Regions from separate parts of the Homo sapiens genome. Here all the other regions are linked to region 3. Evidence: fine-mapped expression QTL. A gene starts in region 3. Each other region holds a variant in brackets. All regions are shown on one strand. Distances are from middle to middle.

Evidence for each region. PIP is the estimated chance that this variant, and not a neighbour inherited with it, causes the effect.
Region 1: its variant is the best candidate, but not a certain one, in a credible set for the expression of C9orf153 in prefrontal cortex (ROSMAP, PIP 0.78).
Region 2: its variant is the best candidate, but not a certain one, in a credible set for the expression of C9orf153 in whole blood (INTERVAL, PIP 0.87).

The regions. Positions count from the first base shown.
Region 1 is chr9:86,307,546-86,314,723 of GRCh38, reverse strand. TUT7 (terminal uridylyl transferase 7) reads left to right here. Exons shown (of 27, transcript NM_024617.4): 18 at 3,915-4,018; 19 at 4,707-4,796; 20 at 5,148-5,261; 21 at 5,435-5,512; 22 at 6,118-6,295. Among named protein-coding and RNA genes, the nearest start is that of ISCA1, 29 kb to the right of the region's middle. RefSeq lists an enhancer at 1,547-2,384. The variant T/C (reference allele first, on the strand shown) is at 3,865.
Region 2 is chr9:86,315,605-86,322,782 of GRCh38, reverse strand. TUT7 (terminal uridylyl transferase 7) reads left to right here. Exons shown (of 27, transcript NM_024617.4): 14 at 308-458; 15 at 3,113-3,199; 16 at 3,725-3,825; 17 at 5,507-5,564. Among named protein-coding and RNA genes, the nearest start is that of TUT7, 35 kb to the left of the region's middle. The variant T/C (reference allele first, on the strand shown) is at 4,026.
Region 3 is chr9:86,255,320-86,262,460 of GRCh38, reverse strand. It overlaps C9orf153 (chromosome 9 open reading frame 153), which reads left to right and starts at 2,804. Exons shown (of 4, transcript NM_001276366.4): 1 at 2,804-2,911. It also overlaps the pseudogene RN7SKP264.

The DNA.
Region 1 (7,178 bases), 52 kb before region 3:
GTTTTTAGGCAGCTGGTGTGGTATTTTAGGGAAGGTATAATGTAGACAACAGGGCAGCAGGACCTCAGCCAGGGTGCCACTGGTGCTAACAGGAAAAAGATATGAGAGATTCCAAGTGGGAAAATTTCCTAGATTTGGTACCTGCAAGTAGGAAGTAAGGATTGAGGTCACTATCTGGGTTATTTGAGAACCAGGAATGTTTGCAGAGAACACCTGTGTGAAAGTGTTTAGTTTGCCATGAGCATATAATCTCCAAGACTTAACATTCCAGAAAACAATTAGAAATATGGGGTTGCCAGTCAGAATTGAAGATGAAAATAAAACAGTTTTTTTGCATTGAAAGCCTTGAAGAAAAAGAGAGAGATTGAGAGAAAGAGACTAGACAGAAATTAAGAAAAGAGACTGAAAAGGAACTGGGAAGATATGCTGTGAATAAATCCGAGACTTTGAAGTGTGGTAATGATCAACAGTGTCAAATTCCAGAATGGGAAGGATGTGAAGAAAAGGGCCTCTGTCTAATTTAGAGGCGAGATAGCAAAGTACTAGGTGGAGGTTCTGGAATCAGACTCTGATTTTAAATTCTGTCTCCCCCTTGCTGGCTGTGCAATCCCAAAAAGTCACTCAGCTTCATAACAAGCACTCAGTTCCTCATCTCTAAAGTGGAAATAACAATTCTATGGCATTTAAGAAAGATAATACGTAAAGTGCAAAGCCTAGCATATTCTAAGTATTCAGTAAAGTGAGCTTCCTTGCCCCCTTTCCCCATCAGATTAAGTTTCATTTCCTCTGTCTGCCACACAGATTTTTTCCTGAAATGTCTTCTACCTACTTATTTTCTCCTGTGTTCTATGATGTGATCACTATGTATCTGCTTTTTAGGAACCACCACTTAGCTCTCTCAGAAGAAACTCAAACTCTGACATCTCAGAATGAGCTTATCTTTCACTTTACCGCTTCCCTTCTGCAGGAACCAACTCCATTAATCTGCCCTTCCTTGTGAATCCTTTTTCATGGTTGTTGATATTGGCATCCTTGGAATCAATAAAACGGGTGAAATGATAATTAGCCTGACCCACACTAGGTTCAGTATAAGTTGGGAGTCAATCTTACCTAGATTTGAATTCCGGCTCCACAATTTACCAGCTGCATATTCCTAAGCTAGTGAATCTTTCTGGGTCTCTGTTTCCTCATCTGTAAGATGAGGGTGATAAACCTAAGGAGGTAATGTTTGTAAAGGACTCTTCACATATCCCTATCACACATTAGGTGCTCAGGAAGTGGTAACTCTTACTCTGAAAGCCCTGATCCTCTCTTACTACCCCTAGCTTCCCATCCAGTTACAGATGCTCTCAAACATGCCTTGCTTCTTCTGTGTATTCCCATGCCACCATGAAAGTTCACACCCAGTTGTTTTTCATAAGTGGTCACCCTGCCTCTGTTCCTGGTGCCTCCAGTCTGTCCACTGCCAGGGTTATTGTCTAACTAGATGTGGTCAGTGATTCCTCCCAACTTAGACCAGTTCATTGGCTCCTCTTTGATTCTAAGGATAATTCTTTTTATTTATTTATTTATTTATTTATTTATTTATTTATTTATTATTGATCATTCTTGGGTGTTTCTCGCAGAGGGGGATTTGGCAGGGTCACAGGACAATAGTGGAGCAGCATAATAAACTTGTTTATCTGGTCAGCAGATAAACAAGTGAACAAAGGTCTCTGGTTTTCCTAGGCAGAGGACCCTGCGGCCTTCTGCAGTGTTTGTGTCCCTGGGTACTTGAGATTAGGGAGTGGTGATGACTCTTAACGAGCATGCTGCCTTCAAGCATCTGTTTAACAAAGCACATCTTGCACCGCCCTTAATCCATTCAACCCTGAGTGGATACAGCAGGTTTCAGAGAGCACAGGGTTGGGGGTAAGGTCACAGATCAACAGGATCCCAAGGCAGAAGAATTTTTCTTAGTACAGAACAAAATGAAAAGTCTCCCATGTCTACCTCTTTCTACACAGACACGGCAACCATCCGATTTCTCAATCTTTTCCCCACCTTTCCCCGCTTTCTATTCCACAAAACCGCCATTGTCATCATGGCCTGTTCTCAATGAGCTGTTGGGTACACCTCCCAGATGGGATGGTGGCCGGGCAGAGGGGCTCCTCACTTCCCAGTAGGGGCGGCCGGGCAGAGGCGCCCCTCACCTCCCAGACGGGGCAGCTGGCCGGGCGGGGGACTGACCCCCCCACCTCCCTCCCGGATGGGGTGGCTGCCGGGTGGAGACGCTCCTCACTTCCCAGACGGGGTGGCTGCCGGGCGGAGGGGCTCCTCACTTCTCAGACGGGGCGGCTGCTGGGCTGAGGGGCTCCTCACTTCTCAGACTGGGCGGTTGCCAGGCAGAGGGTCTCCTCACTTCTCAGATGGGGCGGCCGGGCAGAGACGCTCCTCACATCCCGGACGGGGCGGCAGAGCAGAGGCGCTCCCCACATCTCAGACGATGGGTGGCCGGGCAGAGACGCTCCTCACTTCCTAGATGGGATGGCGGCCGGGAAGAGGCGCTCCTCACTTCCTAGATGGGATGGTGGCCGGGCAGAGACGCTCCTCACTTTCCAGACTGGGCAGCCAGGCAGAGGGGCTCCTCACATCCCAGACGATGGGCGGCCAGGCACAGATGCTCCTCACTTCCCAGACGGGGTGGCGGCCGGGCAGAGGCTGCAATCTCAGCACTTTGGGAGGCCAAGGCAGGCGGCTGGGAGGTGGAGGTTGTAGCGGGCCGAGATCACGCCACTGCACTCCAGCCTGGGCACCATTGAGCACTGAGTGAACGAGACTCCGTCTGCAATCCCGGCACCTCCGGAGGCCAAGGCTGGCGGATCACTCGTGGTTAGGAGCTGGAGACCAGCCCGGCCAACACAGCGAAACCCCGTCTCCACCAAAAAAATACGAAAACCAGTCAGGCGTGGCGGCGCGCACCTGCAATCGCAGGCACTCGGCAGGCTGAGGCAGGAGAATCAGGCAGGGAGGTTGCAGTGAGCCGAGATGGCAGCGGTACAGTCCAGCTTCGGCTCGGCATCAGAGGGAGACCGGCATCAGAGGGAGACCGTGGAAAGAGAGGGAGAGGGAGACCGTGGGGAGAGGGGAGAGGGAAGAGGGGAGAGGGAGAGGGAGAGGACTAAGGATAATTCTTAGCAAAATGTGTATGTTCTGTAGTTGGACCTTTCCCAGTTTCTCCACCATCTCCTATGCCTCATATTCCATTCCCTCAAGTTCATTCGGCAACCTATGCAATTCTCTGGAACTTCCCTGAACGTACCATTCTATTTCAGGCATCTACACTTTTTGTGTACAGTTTGCCTTGCCTGGTAAATTTGCTCAACTGCCACTATTTTTGCTGGTTTTTCTCCCTCTTTTTCAAAGCTTAGCTCAGGCAATTTCCTCTCTCCTATTGAAGTTAATTCCTATTAACTTCATAACTTCTAGCTTTAAGGTGAGTAACTTGTTTGGAGGATAATCGTCCCTTAGGCTGTTCTCCAAATTAGATATAGTCACATGGAGAGAACAGGTGGGAACCACATAGTTCAGACTCTATAGTAGTTTCCTCTGTTTGGTATTTGTCTTAGTGACAACGACATACACATGCATATACACACATGCACACGTGTGCACATACGATCCAGTAAGTTCCCAGAGGGGAGTGACTGTTTGATTCTTGTAGTTCTAATATCAATATGTTTAATAAATGTAAACTTTGCCAGACTAATCTTCCCAGATGTTTGTTAATAACAGAATTCTTTGACAAGTCCTAATGAATGCAATGAAACAGGCCAAAGTTAGGTTTACACCATTTTATATTGGAACATTAACATAAGAGTTACT[T/C]ATATCCCCAGCTGCTGTATTTAATGATAACATTTTATTTCCCAACTTAGGTCTGAGAAACATCTTACCTATTACAACAGCAAAGGTGCCAATTGTGAAGTTCTTCCATTTGAGAAGTGGTCTGGAAGTAGATATCAGTTTGTATAACACATTGGTAAGATTTTTTTCAGGCTTTTTGTTTAGAGAGGTTAAGGGAACAAATGTCTCACCTTGCAAAAACCTCAAGTTAAAGAAGTCACATTCATTTCATCTTAGTGAATCTTTCAAGAGTTATTATGCTTACTTGCTGTGAACCTGGCAGTGTTCTGAGGCTGAGGATTCTAAGATAATTCAGATATGTTTCAGGGATTTATAGGACCTCTCTGACCCTTTAGGGGTGTTTGTGCAGAGAGATCTTATATCTACTGAAAGGGAACTGATTGTTTATTTCACCAGCCCTTATTTTCTAGATGTTCAGACCAAGGACGTATAAAAGCCATGAGGTCAGATGTTACTTATAATTCTTTATTATTATCTAGTAAGTTAATGAAGATTGTCTTTAGGGAAAAAAAAAAGGTTAATTTCAGTTGAAATGTCTTCTTCCTAAAATGAATCAGACTGTAAACCTATTTAAAATATTCCAGTTTAAAATCTTTTCATCTAGGCTCGCATGGTGGCTCATGCTTGTAATCCCAGCACTTTGGGAGGCTGATGGGGGAGGATCACTTGAGCCCAGGAGTTCATGACCAGCCTGGGCAACATAGTGAGATCCCATCTCCATTATTTAAAACAACAACCAAAAAAAAAAAAGAGACCCTTTACACTTCATTGTTAGTCTTATAGTGTTATTTTCCTTTTAACAGGCCCTTCATAACACAAGGCTTTTATCTGCTTATTCCGCCATTGATCCCAGAGTGAAGTATTTGTGCTATACCATGAAAGTATTTACAAAGGTGAGTATGCTTCCTATTGTGACTTATCAGGAAATTTCATTGCATCTTTAAACACTGTTGAAAACATAAATCTATTTTTTAATGAACTGTAGTCATGTGAAATGCTTCATGTAGCTATTTGGGAGACCCTATGAAGAAAGCTAAAATTTTGTTCTGAATTTTATACAATGACCTGATCTTGCACGTAGCCAGCTGTCCACTGCTTTGCTAGGTTGGATTGGTTTTGCCTTTGACAATGTGATTTTTATATTAGTTCTCAAAATATGCACTTTACTTTTAGTGATAACAGAATGGATGCAAAGTTAGCAGAAAACAGACCTTTCCTTTGTTCTTGGTTTTCCTTCTGTCTAGATGTGTGATATTGGTGATGCATCTAGAGGCAGCTTATCATCGTATGCATATACTCTTATGGTGCTATATTTTCTCCAGCAGAGGAATCCACCAGTCATTCCTGTCCTTCAAGAGGTATTAGTGAATGAAATTGTATTTCTTATCTGGAAAACTGGTGATCTCTGAGCCTTTCTCCTCCTCTAAAATTCTGTGGTTCTGTAGTTAATTTTTTACCTATTTTCCTAGAAGTTTTTGTATCAATGCATTAAGTTTGTAATCCATACTAATAGTTTAAAAATTAATTTCAGATATACAAAGGTGAAAAGAAACCTGAAATATTTGTTGATGGCTGGAATATTTATTTTTTTGATCAAATAGATGAACTGGTACGTATTTTAAGAGTAAAGATTTTCCTATATCCTTGACTAAAAATTAGCTATACTACAGTGTAGATGTTCAACAACTATTTTATTGCTTGTTGTATTTATATATCTTATGATAGTAAAAAAAATAGTGTTTTCAGATGCTTTCTTTGATGTGAAAATATTTTTACTAAGCCAAGTGAATTTCTAGGGCCTATATCCAGTATTTCTTTAATGCCTAATAATTCCAAATGGTTAAGTAACTTTATTCCAAGTGAATGAATATTTGTTCTGTGGTTTTTGTACCCAGAGTTTAGAAAGACTTTCAATGAGCTAAAGAGATCTAATAACCTACGTATTACCAAGGCTCTTAGAATCTATTTCTGGATCTTCTGACTAATATGTTCTGAGACTTGACACTGAAAACTCTGAGCTCTTCCTACTCCAAGTCACAGAGTAGAGATTAATAAACTTATGTAAATTATGTTTTTAAATATGAAAGAAAAGTTGCATAATTGAGCTCTAGTTAATTAGAAATAAATCCAAATTTACTCCCTAAAATACAAATGAATATTGATATTAACACTTCACTAAAGACCATGGTATCCCTTGTTCCCTTCTATTTCTAGCCTACCTATTGGTCAGAATGTGGAAAAAATACAGAATCTGTTGGGCAGTTATGGTTGGGCCTTCTTCGTTTCTACACAGAGGAATTTGATTTTAAAGAACATGTTATTAGCATCAGGAGAAAAAGTCTGCTTACAACTTTTAAGAAACAGTGGACCTCAAAATACATTGTTATTGAAGGTACGAATAAAATTAAACTTGAAGTCGAATAGACTATAGAGCTTGAACTATAAGGACATTGTTCTTCCTCCTTGCAGAGCTCTTCCAGCTGCTTGGGGTGTGCAGTGCCCCAGTCTCATTGTCCATACCAGGCCAACTTTTCTCTTTCCAGCCTTAAGATTTGTTTTTTAAATGACTGAAGCCATTTCACCATGACAAATTTTTTGCTATTGTTGGACACATACTGAAGGATAAGGCAGCAGTAGTGATAAGGCAGCTTCAAGAAAGTGGGACTTCTACAACCTTCCTGTTGGGGGGTTTGAAGAGTGCCGCTAAGTGAATTTTCAAGATCTTCATTCGCTATTGATGGAGTTCACCTATAAGTAATTGTATATAAATTTTGACATTTATTTTGACCATATGGAAGCCTTTTCTTTTTCTATTTTTTAGTTTTTGAGATGGAGTTTCGCTCTTGTTGCCCAGGCTGGAGTGCAGTAGCGCTATCTCGGCTCACTGCAACCTCCGCCTCCTGGGTTCAAGCAATTCTCCTGCCTCAGCCACCTGAGTAGCTGGGATTACAGGGACCCACCACCACAACTGGCTAAATTTTTGTACTTTTAGTAGAGATGGGGTTTCACCATGTTGGCCAGGCTGGTCTTGAACTCCTGACCGCAGGTGATCACCCACCTCGGCCTCCCAAAGTGCTGGGATTACAGATGTGAGCCACTGCGCCTGGCCACCTTATCTTTTTCTATTGAATGTAGTGATCTATTGGAGCCATTGATGCTAATAGTTGATTGTTTATTTCCAATTTGTGGGATTCTTATTTTAAGACAAAATGGAATTTAAATGCTTTAGCTGAGAAATGACCTAAGAAATATTTTTTTAATTTTAATAAGATTTT
Region 2 (7,178 bases), 60 kb before region 3:
TATTTTGGTAGTGTTGAACAAGTTGGCCTTTCATTCTGATATGACTGCTCGGTCTGCTTTTCTCCTTAAGACTCATGGGAATTAGCAGAGGAAGGGAATGCTATTAGTAGTGAAAATAGCCACTATGTTCTCCTAATGATACTATAGGATGTCCCCATCTCTCAGATCATTTGAGTGGATGCATGTTATATTTTCATTTCCTTTGGAAAGTGAATAGGTGACTGTGTACTTTTAAAACATGATTCCAGACTCCTTTATTTGGCAAATAAAGTGTTAAGTCTTGTTTTGCTTTGCCATATTCCTGCAGTCTCCTACGGTAGTGTGCAGCTTATGCAAACGAGAGGGTCATCTAAAGAAGGACTGTCCTGAAGACTTCAAAAGAATCCAGCTAGAACCTCTGCCACCATTAACACCCAAGTTTTTAAATATCTTAGATCAAGTCTGTATCCAGTGTTATAGTAAGTTATTCACATTTCTTTTGATTTGTCAAAATATTAAATTGACATTTACTCGAGTCTTTAGAATCACTATCCTATTTAGGTCTCTAAACATTATTAGGGACCAAGTCTATTCCATTCTCCATTGTATCCTCAAGCGTTCCATGTCATGTCTGTTCTGTTTGGGACATGCAATAAATGTCAAAGAAGGATGAGGAGAGATGCAGGGAGGATCTTTTTTATTTAAAAAAAAATTTTTTTTTAAATTTTGAGACAGGATCTCATTCTGTCACCCAGACTGGAGTGTAGCAGAGCAATCATGAGTCACTGCAGCCTCGACCTCCCAGACTAAAGCAATCCTCTCACCTCAGCCTCCCAAGTAGCTGGGAGCACAGATGCATGCCACTATGCCTGACTAAATTTTTCATTATTTGTAGAGACACAGTTTCCCTGTGTTACCCAAGCTAGTCTTGAACTCCTGGGCTCAGGCAAATGGAGGATCTTTTATTTTTCTTTTAATATCAAGTGCCTTCTGTACTTCCTTTTATTAACAGCATAGTTGTTGCATCAAGATACATAGCAATCATAGCAGGTTTCCTTTTTTGGAGGGTGATGGTGAGACAGGGTCTTGCTCGGTCCCCCAGGCTGGAATGCAGTGGCGCAATATCAGCTCTCCACAGCCTCTAACTCCTGGACTCAAGCAATTCTTCTGCCTCAACCACCCAAGTAGCTGGTATTACAGGCATGCATCACCACACCCAGCTCATTCTTATATTTTTTGTAGATACAGGGTTTCACCACGTTGGCCAGGCTGGTCTCAAACTCCTGACCTCAAGTGATTCATCCAACTGAGTCTCCGAAAGAGCTGGGATTACAGGCTTGAGCCATGGCGCCTGGCCAGCAGGTTTCTTTTTAAAGCTTAGTATTAAATATCTTTCCCCATTTAAATTTTCCATTACTCTGCCAAGAAAAAAAATTTTTTTTTTTTTGAGACAAAGTCTAGCTCTGTCACCCAGGCTGGAGTGCAGTGGTGCGATCTCAGCTCACTGCAACCTCCACCTCCTGGGTTCAAGCAATTCTCCTGCCTCAGCCTCCTGAGTAGCTGGAATTACAGTCATGCACCACCATGTCCAGCTAATTTTTTTTTTTTTTTTTAGTAGAGATGGGGTTTCACCATATTGGCCAGGCAAGTCTCAAACTCCTGACCTCCAGTGATCCGCTCGCCTTGACCTCCCAAAGTGCTGGGATTACAGGCGTGAGCCACCGCTCCCGGCCAAAAATTAAAATTCAAGTTACTTGAAGCCTGGACACACTTCCCTGGCTAGCTGGGCTATGTAAAGGTTGGTGGTGTTATTCTTCCTGCTGTGTAAGCAGATCCAGGCCCCAGAAAGAAGGGACCAGGTTATATAATTGTTTTTGAAAAGTTTGCTACAAAAATGCATGGCCTGTTATAAGCCAGGATACAAAGTAAGGATGAGGGTAAGGGAGCGACATTTTTTTCCAGAAGAAAGATATTTTCTGAAGAGTCTCAGTTCATAATTTTCCCAAAATCGTTGGAAGAGAGGGTAAAATCTCAATATGAATTTCAAAGTACTGTCTCTGTGAGGGGCCGAAAGTTGCCTTGCTGAGGATCTTTTATTAAGTCTTAAAATTAGAGTAGTAGCATTTCCCAGCTGGCATTCTTTGAAATGTTTTTCTAGATGGCAGTTAATAATATTTCATCACCAGAAGTATACCTAGGCCAGCGAGGGAATAACACTACACACTCCCTTCTCTCTTAGAATTCCTGGGTTATTTCCAGGACATATTAGCATATTGAAGGTATCTGAGAAATATTATTTCTAAAATTTGAACATAGAATAATTTTTGAGTAACGCTAATTAATAGCCTACTTAACAGCCCTTTAAGGAACACAAATTTGGGGAAGCATTGGTGTAGAGAGCCTTAAAGTTTTACAAAAGAAAATATTTAAAGGATAGATGTTCAGCTGCTTAAAATGAAGGAACTTGTTTCACATGGCTTCATCATAAGGTGTTCATCCGTGTCAGAAGACACGTGTTCTTAACAAGTCCTTTTTTTTTTTTTTTTGGGAAATTTTTTTTTTTTATATTATGAGCTATTAAAAAAACTAGGTTCTCCTTAGGGAAAAAAATACATGCAAATGCTCACAAACTTTTAAATTCACACTTTAGCGGGGTGGTGATTTCTGAAGGCCCTTTCTGTAACCCTGGTGTCTTTCAGGAAACCCAGGTGGAGATCCCATGTTTAAATTACTTTCCGTTTCAAGAGCACTTCTTAGATTCTTTAAAAAAGGACATCTTAAATTTTACATTACTGTTACAAAAATTAGCCAGGCATGGTGGTACATGCCTATAGTCCCAGCTACTCGGGAGGCTGAGGTGGGAAGATGGCTTGAGCCTGGGAGGCAGAGGTTGCAGTAAGCTAAGATCACACTACTGCACTGCAGCCTGGCCGACAGAACCAGACCTTATCTCAAAAATAAATAAAAAACAAACTTTACCTTGTTAATGCTATCTACTGAGAAGACACAATGATTTAGGAATTTTTAAATTTAAGCTTGTAAGTTTTATTTTCTAAAAAATAAATTTTTTTCAGCTTTTTCTAAGAGTGTCAACCGGCTTATTTTGTCAATATGTCTATTTATTTTTAAACAGAGGATTTTTCTCCAACAATTATAGAAGATCAGGCTCGTGAACATATTCGGCAAAACCTAGAAAGTTTCATAAGACAGGACTTTCCAGGTAAATGATTTATTTTTTATTTTTAAGAAAAGTAGTGTAACCTTTTTTCCAAATCAGTTCATGTGTTACAAGCACACTGATTTTGAGAATCAGGATTTCCATTGTTTTGCAATATACCCAGGATGGTCCTTGGTCTGCCAAATCCTCATTTACCAACAGAAACAGTGTAGGGTTTATTCTAGCAAGTGCCATAAGTGAATTTCATTTAATACTATGTTTAGAGTCAAAGTTAAGCTTACATTATTAAATGTGTTGAGGTGATCTAACATTTTCCTTGAAATGTCTTTGCATTTAAGAATAAAGGAGCACCTGGTAATCTTTCTTGCCATATACAGCTTGTATGTAAAGGAAGCTTTGAGAGAAAAAGACTTTAGCATAAATGACCAGTTAATCAGAGAACATAAGTATGAGATTAATATAGGATAATTAAACAACTGGGTGTTTTTGATTCATGAGAGGGCCATTTTGATCAAAAATTAAATGTACTCAGGTAATTAGTTATTACTTTTCATATATCCCTAACAGGAACTAAATTGAGCCTGTTTGGCTCCTCCAAAAATGGATTTGGGTTCAAACAGAGTGACCTTGACGTCTGTATGACAATTAATGGACTTGAAACTGCTGAGGTACAGTGACCACATAAAACTTCCATTTGCTGTGGCAGTGTGATTTAACCAATCTAGACTGGCATTACAGCTTGGTATTTTCCAAATTTATCAGGGCATACCATATAGAGTGTGCTGTTTGGCACAGTCTCTGGCCAAATACATTAAGAGGCTTGGAAAGGTTGTGAGGAATGTGAGGAGCAGAAAGGTTATACTTTCAC[T/C]CTGTAGCAAAAAGTGGATTGGAAAGTGTTGCCTGGGAATTCTACATAGCCAAACCAGCCTCTTCAGTGTCCCATTGGCTTGGCTACTATGCTGACTTGGATCACACACTCACATAAGGTTACCTGTAAAGTTTGTTACCAGACAGGCAGTGTGGTAAATCATAAGAGTACTAACCTTAGAGTCCAGAGGCCTGGATTTGAGACAAACTTGTTTCATCAGTACCTAAACATGTGGTCTTTGGTAAATAATCGATAAAGTATAATATCTGTTCCTCCTGCCTCCGCTGATTTTTGTACACATTATCATGGATCATGTGGGTCAGGAGTTAGCAAACGATGGCCCTTGGGCAATTCAGCCCCCCACTGCCTGTTTTTGTAAATAAAGTTTTATTGGGACAGAATCACACCCATTCACATATGTAATGTCTATGGCTGCCTTCACTCTTAAGTACAGAGTTTAGTAGTTGTAAGAGACCATATGGCGTGCAAAGCAAAACAAACTTGCCAGCCCCTGGGATATCTGAAGGCATTTATAAAATATAAAACACTATATAAAGGTATAAAGTCTAGGAAGTGCTGAGTCCCTATTCTTTTAAATCCTTAACAGCAGTCCAAATGCTAAATATCCAAATGAATGATGCTGCTGTTGCTGAAGACCTTTTTGTACCTTTTCTTAGTTTCAAGTCTTTCTATTTTGAGGATGTATCTGATTTGGGAAAATAGTCAAAAGTGATCTAGCCTGAATTTGAATAAAGTATATAAGCAAGATTGGCTCAACATATGGAATGACCCTATCATACATCCTCAAGGTTTATTTATTTATTTATTTTTTTACATGGCTTATAAACTAGTTTTGAGGGCATTTCTAAAGTAACATTCCACGTATGTTCTGGGATTTTTATAACCATCAAAAAGGCGTATGTTGAGTCAGCCCAAATGTTTTTAAGAATGATTTATCAAATACTATTTATATTTGCTGTATGACTTTAGTTATATGCATTATAATTCTGGCTAGTCCTATAGGGAAATAATTTGAGCTTAATCACTCTCCACAGCAATTCATCAACTCTTAAACTATAGAAGGTCTGCTTAGAATGAATGAGCTGGGGCACAGAAGCCTCCTCTCATTTATTCTGGGACATGGGGTACATCCGAGTGATATTATGTGGAGGGGAAGAAATGAAGGTCCTCAACCATGGTTCAGAGACTTTTTTGGAAGCCCTAGGTCCATAAGCTTCCTGACTGATTTTAGCCTTTGTTGCACACCCAAAAACAATTAGGAAGTAGGGTATTTAGTGGTTTTTGTACCGTCAGGATATTTCCTGTGAATACTGACTCTAATACCCAACTAGAAAGGAAAAAAATAGATATAGACTGACTTGAAATTAATTACATTATTTCTGAAGGTAATGGAAACTATAGCCAGTTTCAGAACCTGTCTTCCAGTTTTGGTTAAGTTCTTTATGCCTTCTTTGTTGTAGGGATTGGACTGTGTCAGAACTATTGAAGAATTAGCAAGAGTCCTCAGAAAACATTCAGGTACCTCTGTAAACTTTTTCTAAAAATATTTCTGACTTTTTAATTAGTGTTTTCTATAGTCTTCCCTTGGTATCCATGGGGTATTTGTTCCAGGCCCACCCATCACCCCTCAACCCTCCCTTCCCCAGCAGATAAAAAAAATCCTTAGATGCTCAAGTTCCTTATATAAAATGGCATAGTATTTACATATAACCTATATGCATCCTTCCATATAGTTTTAGTCATCTCTAGGTTACTTATAATACCTAATACAGTGTAAATACTATGTAAATAGTTGTTATACTGTATTTTTTATTTGTATTTTTTTATTGTTGTATCGTTAGTTTTTTATTAGTTGCTTTTTTCTCTTAAATATTTTTGGTTTGTGTTTGATTGGATATGGGGATGCAGGACCCACAGACATGAAAGGCCAATTGTATTTAGAGTTTATTAATGCCATGAAGCAGTATAGTGGCTCATTCATAGAATAATTGCAATATTAATGTCTTTTTAAAATCTTGTATGCGTAAGTATGAAAGACTGAGGAATTGGTGATAATTTATATGCATATTGTTGCCTAGCTCAGTTTTATTTCAAGACAAAGCCTACGCCAGACAGGCAAGAAAGGCTATAAATCCTTTTCCTTTGTTGGCGTTGTATAAGTCAAAGTGTAGGAGTTGCTAATTGTGTGAAGTGTCAAGGAAAGCACCCCGGACTGGGCTTGTGGGTTGAATTTGCAGCTGTTCTGCTCAACAAGCTGTATATGACCCTGAACAAGTCCTTCACTTGAAGCGATCTCTTTTTTTAAGAAATGGGATCTTGCTAGGTTGTCCAGGCTAGTCTCTGAACTCCTGGGCTCAAGTGCCTTGGCCTCCCAAAGCACTGGGATTACAGGTGTGAGCCACTACGCTTGGCCTGATCTCTTTTTTTCATTGATAAATTGAGGCAACTGGACTGGATAATTATTCTAGAGTATTTACAGCTATAAAATGTATAGATTTTGTAAACCATGCACAGAATTGAAATGCTGTTAACGTATCCTTTTGTTGTCATGGCAGCTATGGATACCATTAACAGTGAAAAATCTTCTTTTAAAATGTAGTTCAGCAAACTTCTGTGCTAAGAGCTGAAAATGAAAGTGAACAATATATGGCCCCTATCCTCAGGAACTTAAAATCCATGGTCTGTCCATGAAAAGTTTTTGTACATTTCGGTTAGGAACAGACTTTAAGTCACAGCATGAACGTGCACACACACCTAGACACACACATATATACACCTTGGGTGCCACTTTTCTTTGAAATTTTTTCCCCAGGAGTTAATAAAGTACATACCATGTTGTTTAAATAACAGGAGGAAAAAAAATCTTAATTTTGGTTTATTCCCAATAAAAATTAACCTAAAGTATACAGAAATTGGGTTAGGCTTTGTTTTTTTAAATGTACATTGATTTGTTCACAGAGGGCAGAACAATATAAAAAAAAAAGAAAAAAAGTGCATTGATATACTTTTCTTTGGTCATTGAAGTAAACATTTCCCTTAACTTGGGAATTCCACCTCTAAAGATCATGTGTTTTGTTTTGTTTTGTTTTGTTTTGAAGGTCGTGCAAAGAAACTGAAGTACTAAGTTAGCGT
Region 3 (7,141 bases):
TCATTTGAGCCTTAGAGCAGACGTGGCATGGGCCAGACACAGCATCGACCCAGAATAAACCCAAATACAGCTCACCTGAGCTCAGTGCAGGCTGGGAGGCTGGCCTGGAAAGGTGTAGGTTTGGGGTGAGATATGCCTGGATTTGAATCATGGTTCCTGTCATTTTGTAGCCATGTAACCTTCTGTAAAACAGTCTCAGAATTTGGGGGGATGTGATGAGCTAACTACACATAAATGGCATCCTGCTAAGGGTAGACGTTTCATACGTTGTAATTCTTGTCCCTTTTAGCCATTTTCTTGTGCAAAAAGGGATAATATGTTAATGGATTATCAATCAAAGCAAGAGCTTAGGGAAAGAGTTTCAACACATTTAGGGAGTTATTGTCCCATATTCAAATCTGGGGGAAATTTGCTGTATTTCCTTCAAATAAAAGACCACAGTAACTTCTTTGAAAAGAACCATAAATTTCAAATATAAACATTCGGAGAAATTTCATTCTCTTAGTAGCTGATTAACTATAGACAAACCTGCCTTAATTGAGGAGCTGTTTTGAAAGCTCATTCCCCAGTAGGAACTCAATCTCCTGGTCCCAGGTGGGTCTCATCAGACAAGAGATGGAGGAGAGAGGGAGGTGCACCCTAGCCTCAGCCTCTATTGAAATACAGAGCCATGTGGTGGTTACATCACTGTGGACTCCCATCCTCCCTTGCTGCTGTGCAGTGTTCAGGGAAGGCTTCATTTCACACCAACCTTTAGCGGGGCAAGGGCTCTGTACCAGCGGTACTCAGCTTAAAACTAGCCTACTTTGAGGGCCTTGATGGGTTACTGCTTTTACTTCCACTAGCTAGTGATTCCGAAACTTTTCATGATGAAGTGCCCATTTATTGGGCCAGGTGTGTTGGCTCAAGCCTGTAATCCCAGCACTTTGGGAGGCAAAAGTGGGCAGATCACCTGATCCCAGGAGTTCAAGACCAGCCTGGGCAACGTGGTAAAACGCCGTCTCTACAAAAAATACAAAAATTAGCTGGTCATGGTGGTACATGCCTGTAGTCCCCGTTGCTCAGGAGACCAAGGTGAGAGGATCACTTTAGCCCAGGAGGTAGAGGTTGCAGTGAGCCAAGATCGTACTACTGCACTCCAGCCTGGATGACAGAGCAAGACCCTGTCTCAAAAAAAAAAAGAATAAAAAATAAAGTACTCATTTTTTGTTCTCCATGGATTCTATGTCTTGAAGCAGTCCTCAAACTTTAAGGTGCAAATAAGTCACCTGGGGGTCTTGTTAAAAAGCAGATTCTTGGCCGGGCGCAGTAGGTAGCTCACGCCTGTAATCCAGCACTTTGGGAGGCTGAGGCGAGTGGATCACTTGAGGTCAGGAGTTCGAGACCAGCCTGGCCAACATGGTGAAACCCCATCTCTACTAAAAATACACAAAAATTAGCCAGACATAGTGGTGGGCGCCTCTAGTCCCAGCTACTCAGGAGGCTGAGGCAGGAGAATCACTTGAACCTGGGAGGTGGGGAGGTTGCAGTGACATGAGATGGCACCACTGCATTCCAGCCTGGGTGACAGAGCAAAACTGTCTCAAAAAAAAAAAAAAAGCAGATTCTGTAACAAAGGTCCAGGGCAGAGCCTGAGATTCTGCATTAGTAGCAAAGGCCCAAGTGAAGCCAGTGCTGTTGCTCTGCAGAACACCTTTGAATGGCAGGCTTTTGAAATATTTTCTCATTGGAAGAATCTTCTGTATTTATTAAATTCTGCTTAAAATTATTAACTTTCTTGTATATCCATGTTCATAACAGCATTATTCACAATAGCCAAAAGGTAGGAACAACCCAGGTGTCCATTGACAGGGGACAGGGGGTGAGAAATTTATTTCATGGACACAGATTCAGGTGGAAAAGATGAAAAAGCTCTGGAGATGGAAGGCAGTGCAGGTGGCACAACAATGTGAATGTACTGAATGCCACAGAACTGTGTACCTAAAACGGCTTAACACGGTAAGCTTCATGTTATGGATATGTTGCCACGGTGTTCACAAGTTATTAACTCAATCAGACTATTTAAATGCCCAGTAGATTGCATTCTGGGGAAATGGCTGTTTCAGGAAAATTTTCAGTGATTGCCACAGGGACCTCCCATGGGTGGGGAATGGAGTCTGGAGCACGGCTGCATGGCTCATGGAGAGAATTTGCACAGCCAGGTAGCCCCTGGTCCACTTCTACCCATATCTGGCCAGGTGCAAAGAGCATAGCTGTACCTTCTATTATCTCTCTCAATTTCTTATTTGCACTTTGCCCATGTCTATAGAAGGAAAAACTTGACTGATTAAAAATTACATTCACGGCACCTGTAGTCCCAGCTACTCAAGAGGCTGAGGCAGGAGAATGGCGTGAACCCGGGAGGCGGAGCTTGCAGTGAGCTGAGATCGTGCCACTGCACTCCAGCCTGGGCGACAGAGTGAGACTCCATCTCAAAAAAAAAAAAAAATTATACTCACGCCAGCCTGGGCAACATGGCGAAACCCCATCTCTAGAGAAAAATACATAAATTAGCCAGGCGTGGTGGCGTGCGCCCGGGGTCCCAGCCACAAGCTGAGGCAGAAAAAAAAGTAGCTACTCAGCTACTCAATGTTCACTCTTTAAAAATGCTTTTCCATCATCCTCCACCGTCTCCCACCCCCCACCAAGCAGCAAGATAATTCCCCATCGCTTAGCATCATATAGCTGCTTATGTGACCTTGAGAATGTCCACATGTCACAATGGACAGTCACTTAACACTAAGCAATGACACATGCTAGGAGTGGGGCTGGGCCTTGGGGCTGCTGGATGAATGAGACCCAGCCTCTGCCCTGGGAGTGCAGAGACTCAAGACAGATATGACCACGTGAAGAGACAACTGTAAAACAAGTGGTAAGTGCATCTACAGCCATAGCCACGGGGCACTGTGAGACCACAGAGCAGTGAAAACTAAGCCAGTCTAGGCTTGGCAAGGAGAGATGGAGTGAGGTGGGCAGTGGCTAAGGTGGGAAGACCAGAGCTGGGAGGTGAGATGGGATTTGGGTTTATCTTTACCAATAAGGATGAGGAGCCTGTTTCATCTTCCTCCAGGCAGGTCACAGAAGCTGGAACCAGTTGATCGGGCCGAGCCTGCAGACTCCCTCATCCTTTCCGGCCTTCAACACTGATAGCTCTGCTCTCTCTCCCCAACCTCAGTGCCTTCATCCTCCCCTGTGTTCCCATGGATGCTTGGTCCTGACTTTGCACCTCTCCCTCACACCCAGTGTCCTTTGTTTTTCCTCTGCCACTTGGGAGGCTGATGGGAGGATCACCTGAGCCTGGGAGGTTGAGGCTGCAGTGACCTGTGTTCACGCCACTGCACTCCAGCTGGGGTGACAGAATGAGAGCCTATCTCAAAGAAAAAAAAAAAACACTGCTCTGTATGATACTATCAAAGTGGATATATGTAATTGCACATTGTGAAATCTCATAGAATGCACAACACCAAGAATGGACCGTAATGTAAACTGTGAAGTATGGGCTTTAGTTAGTAACCATGCATTGATACCGGCTCATCAAGTATAACAAACGTACCACACAAACATAAGTAGTAAAAAAAAAAGGGGAAAGCTGTGTGTATGGTGCAGAGAAGGGGGGTTGTGGGAACATTGTACTTTCTAACCAATTCTAAAATTGCTCTAAAATTTAAGTATATTAATATTTTTAAAAAAAGTTTCGTTAAATTAGCAATATAATAGTTGCTTACCCAAGAAAATTCAGGTTTTCAAATATTGCGTTTTAAAAGCAATTATTTCCGGATGTGAGGGTGATCTGGCTGCAACATCTGTCACCCCACTGATGGCCAGGGTTAATTTGTCTGATCTGGCTGGCTAGGTGGATGTCTCCTTCCTCCCTCATCCGTCCACATGCGTCCTTCCAGACGCTGCGGACAACCTTCCCCAACAGAGGAGGGCCGTTCTTTGGGCAAGGGTATATGAGTAGCTGCACTCCCCTGCTAGAACCTCCAAACAAGCTCTCTAAAAGTAATTACTTCAAAGGAAGGATTAAGAGTTTCATCCTCTATGACAAAATTAATTTTTCCTTTTTTTTTTTTTTTTTTTGAGACAAAGTCTCACTCTGTCGCCCAGGCTGGAGTGCAATGGCACGATCTCGGCTCACTGCAACCTCCGCCTCCTGGGTTCAAGTGATTCTCCTGCCTCAGCCTCCCGAGTAGCTGGGACTACCGGCGCCCACCACCATGCCCAGCTAATTTTTGTATTGTTAGTAGAGACAGGGTTTCACCGTGTTAGCCAGGATGGTCTTGATCTCCTGACCCCGTGATCTGCTCCCCTTGGTCTCCCAAAGTGCTGGGATTATGGGCGTGAGCCACCGCACCCGTCCTACAAAAATTTTAGTAATAAAGGTTGTCCTTAATAGTTGAATGTGCACAGCTATAAAACCCACACAAGAAAGCAATCTGGCCTCCGCATCTAATATCTGCTCAAGATTGATGAGCTCTCTCCCCCTCCACGTTAGCCCCAGATGGGTTGTTTGAGCTGCCCACACCGCTCATTCCCTGAAGCCATCGTGACAGGACACTGTCACCTTTGTCATCCATTGTGTTGGTATATAAATCCACTCAACTGATCTGTTCCTGGCCAAGACCACAGACTTTTCCCCTCTCTGAGGAGCTAAGTCTGATTGTCATATTTTCAGTTCTGGTTGTTATATCAGCAGTAGTAAATTGCATTCCCTGTCAATCAATCGTGTTGTCAATTCACCCTCTGACAACTAAAGCAGAAGGCCTAAAATTACTGAGTGCCTACTCTGTGCCAGCTGCCATGTCAGACAAGCGGCTCCCCTGGGAAGACAGCCAGACTCAAGGGTAAGGGATCAAGGAAATCAGCCAGGAAAGTCCATTAGGCATTTTGGGGAAAGACCAGGCAGGAGCTAATGAAGTCTAGATGAAAAGTGACAGCTGAGAGAACTGAAAAAGGGGCAGATGTCTTGTTTGGCTTGATGGAGCCTCCAACTGATTACAAGTGAAAGCCAGGAGGGAGGAGCTTAAAAGGCCTGCTGTTCTGCAGGGGAATCTTCAGGTTCCTATGGGCTCCCATCTCCTCCCCAAGGAGTCTTCTCACTTAGACTAGCATTCCCAAAGCATGGAACCCAGTAATCGCTGCAGTGAGCCACAGGTGCTTTGGGGTTTCAGAAGAAAAGGCAATCTGTTGGCCTAAAGGAAGAAGCCAAGGCAAAATTAATATAAGTAGAGAGCTTATTTGAGCCAAGTTTGAGGACTGCAACCCTGGGGACATTGATTCAAGTTGCCCAGAATATATGCTCCAATCGGCAATTATAAGTGGGTTTTTAAAGGGAAAAAAGAAGAGGTAGTTCTAAAGTTGTTTACCAAGTATTTACATTGGTTCATTAAAATACCGTAAGCTTCTTTTTTTCTTCTTCTTCTTGTTGAGACAAGGTTTCCCCCTGTGTTGCCCAGGCTGGTCTTGAACTCCTGTACTCAAGTGATCTCTCACCTCAGCCTCCCGTGTAGCTGGGATTACAGGTGCATGCCACAGTGACTCACTCAAAATAGTATAAGCTATTGACTGGCTATGCGCTGTTCTTTGTATCACAAATTCCAGAAAAATGAAGATATGGGTGAGGGTCACATTGTGCAACTCATAGCATTTTAGGTAATTTATCAGCTGGTCTGGAAACTATAGGCAATAGAAGAAAAATACAAAATGCCTTTAAACAATTAACCCTGGGCATAGGGTTAATGAGACTCTCCTGTCTCTCTGATAAATTTTGCATTCCTCAGATTCTTCCGACTGCTCTGAGCTACTTTCCTTTCCCAAATGAAACAGTTGTAGTCACACTTCATAAATTGAAAATAACATAGTAATGATTTCCCAGAAATCTCATTTTGTTCCTAATAGCTCCTGCGTATTTAAATGTTGAGCATTTTCCACGAAGATGACATTAATCAAATGTTCTTAAATAACATTCAATTAGCAGGATACAGTTCATTCTGGTTAATATATTTTTCACAACATTTGCTTATTTCTGTTTAGTAAGTCTGCAATCTTTATCATTGCTATTGGGTTATATTAGATTGAATCAGTGGCTCGAAGGTATTCATTGAAACCTAAAATAATGATGGAGACAGTAGTGGATATTCCACACATCAGAATCATCTGTGAACGCACATAGTGCTCACGATTCCAGAATGATGTAGGATGGCAACCAGGACTCACTGAGTCAAGCAAATCTGCAGGTATGATGATCTTACATAAGCAGCTGAAGAGTGAAAGTAAGAAGTGAGAAGACAGTAGTGGATATTTCACGCATCAGAATCATCTGTGAATGCACATTGTGCTCATGATTCCAGAATGCTGTAGAATCACAACCAGGACTCACTGCGTCAAGCAAAGCTGCAGGTGTGATGATCTTACAGAGGCAGCTGATAAGTGAAAGTGGGTAAGAAGTGCCACAATGAACATCTGAAAAACGTGTTAGATTAAATCAAAGTTCTCCTTCCCCAAGTCCCCTGAGCAAAATATAAGACCTGGCCAGATGAGCTTATTATGGCTCAGAAAACAACACCCCTGTAGGAGCCAAGGGAAAAATGTCCTTTTTGCCCTCTGAAGGTTTGCTGAAAAAAATAACTCGCAAAAGGCAGATTCACTGGAGAAAAGGCATACGAATTTATTTATGTGCACATAGGAAAGAACCACAGAATGATTGCTCCAAACGCCCAGTGGGTTACAGAAGCTTACATACCATCTTGAGGTTACGAAGAGAATGGGAGCTCAGAGAATGGCCCAAAACAAGTTATGGTGGTAAATCAGGTTATGGTGCATGACAGGTTATGGCAGGGAGAGAAGAGGAGGCCTGGCTAGCAAAGGTGGTCTTGCTATGTAGATGAAACCTCACAGGTAGCAGCCTTCAGAAAGAATACATGGTAAATGTTTCCCACCTTCAAAGGTGTCAAACTCTCAGTTAATCTTTCCTACATCAAACAAGGGAAGGCTCAGAAGAAGCCAGGCTGCATCAAGGCAGATTGTGTACGATGCAAATCTCCCCACGAAAGACAACTTTGCAGGGCTACTTCTGTTTGCTGGCTCTCTGAACAGACACCTC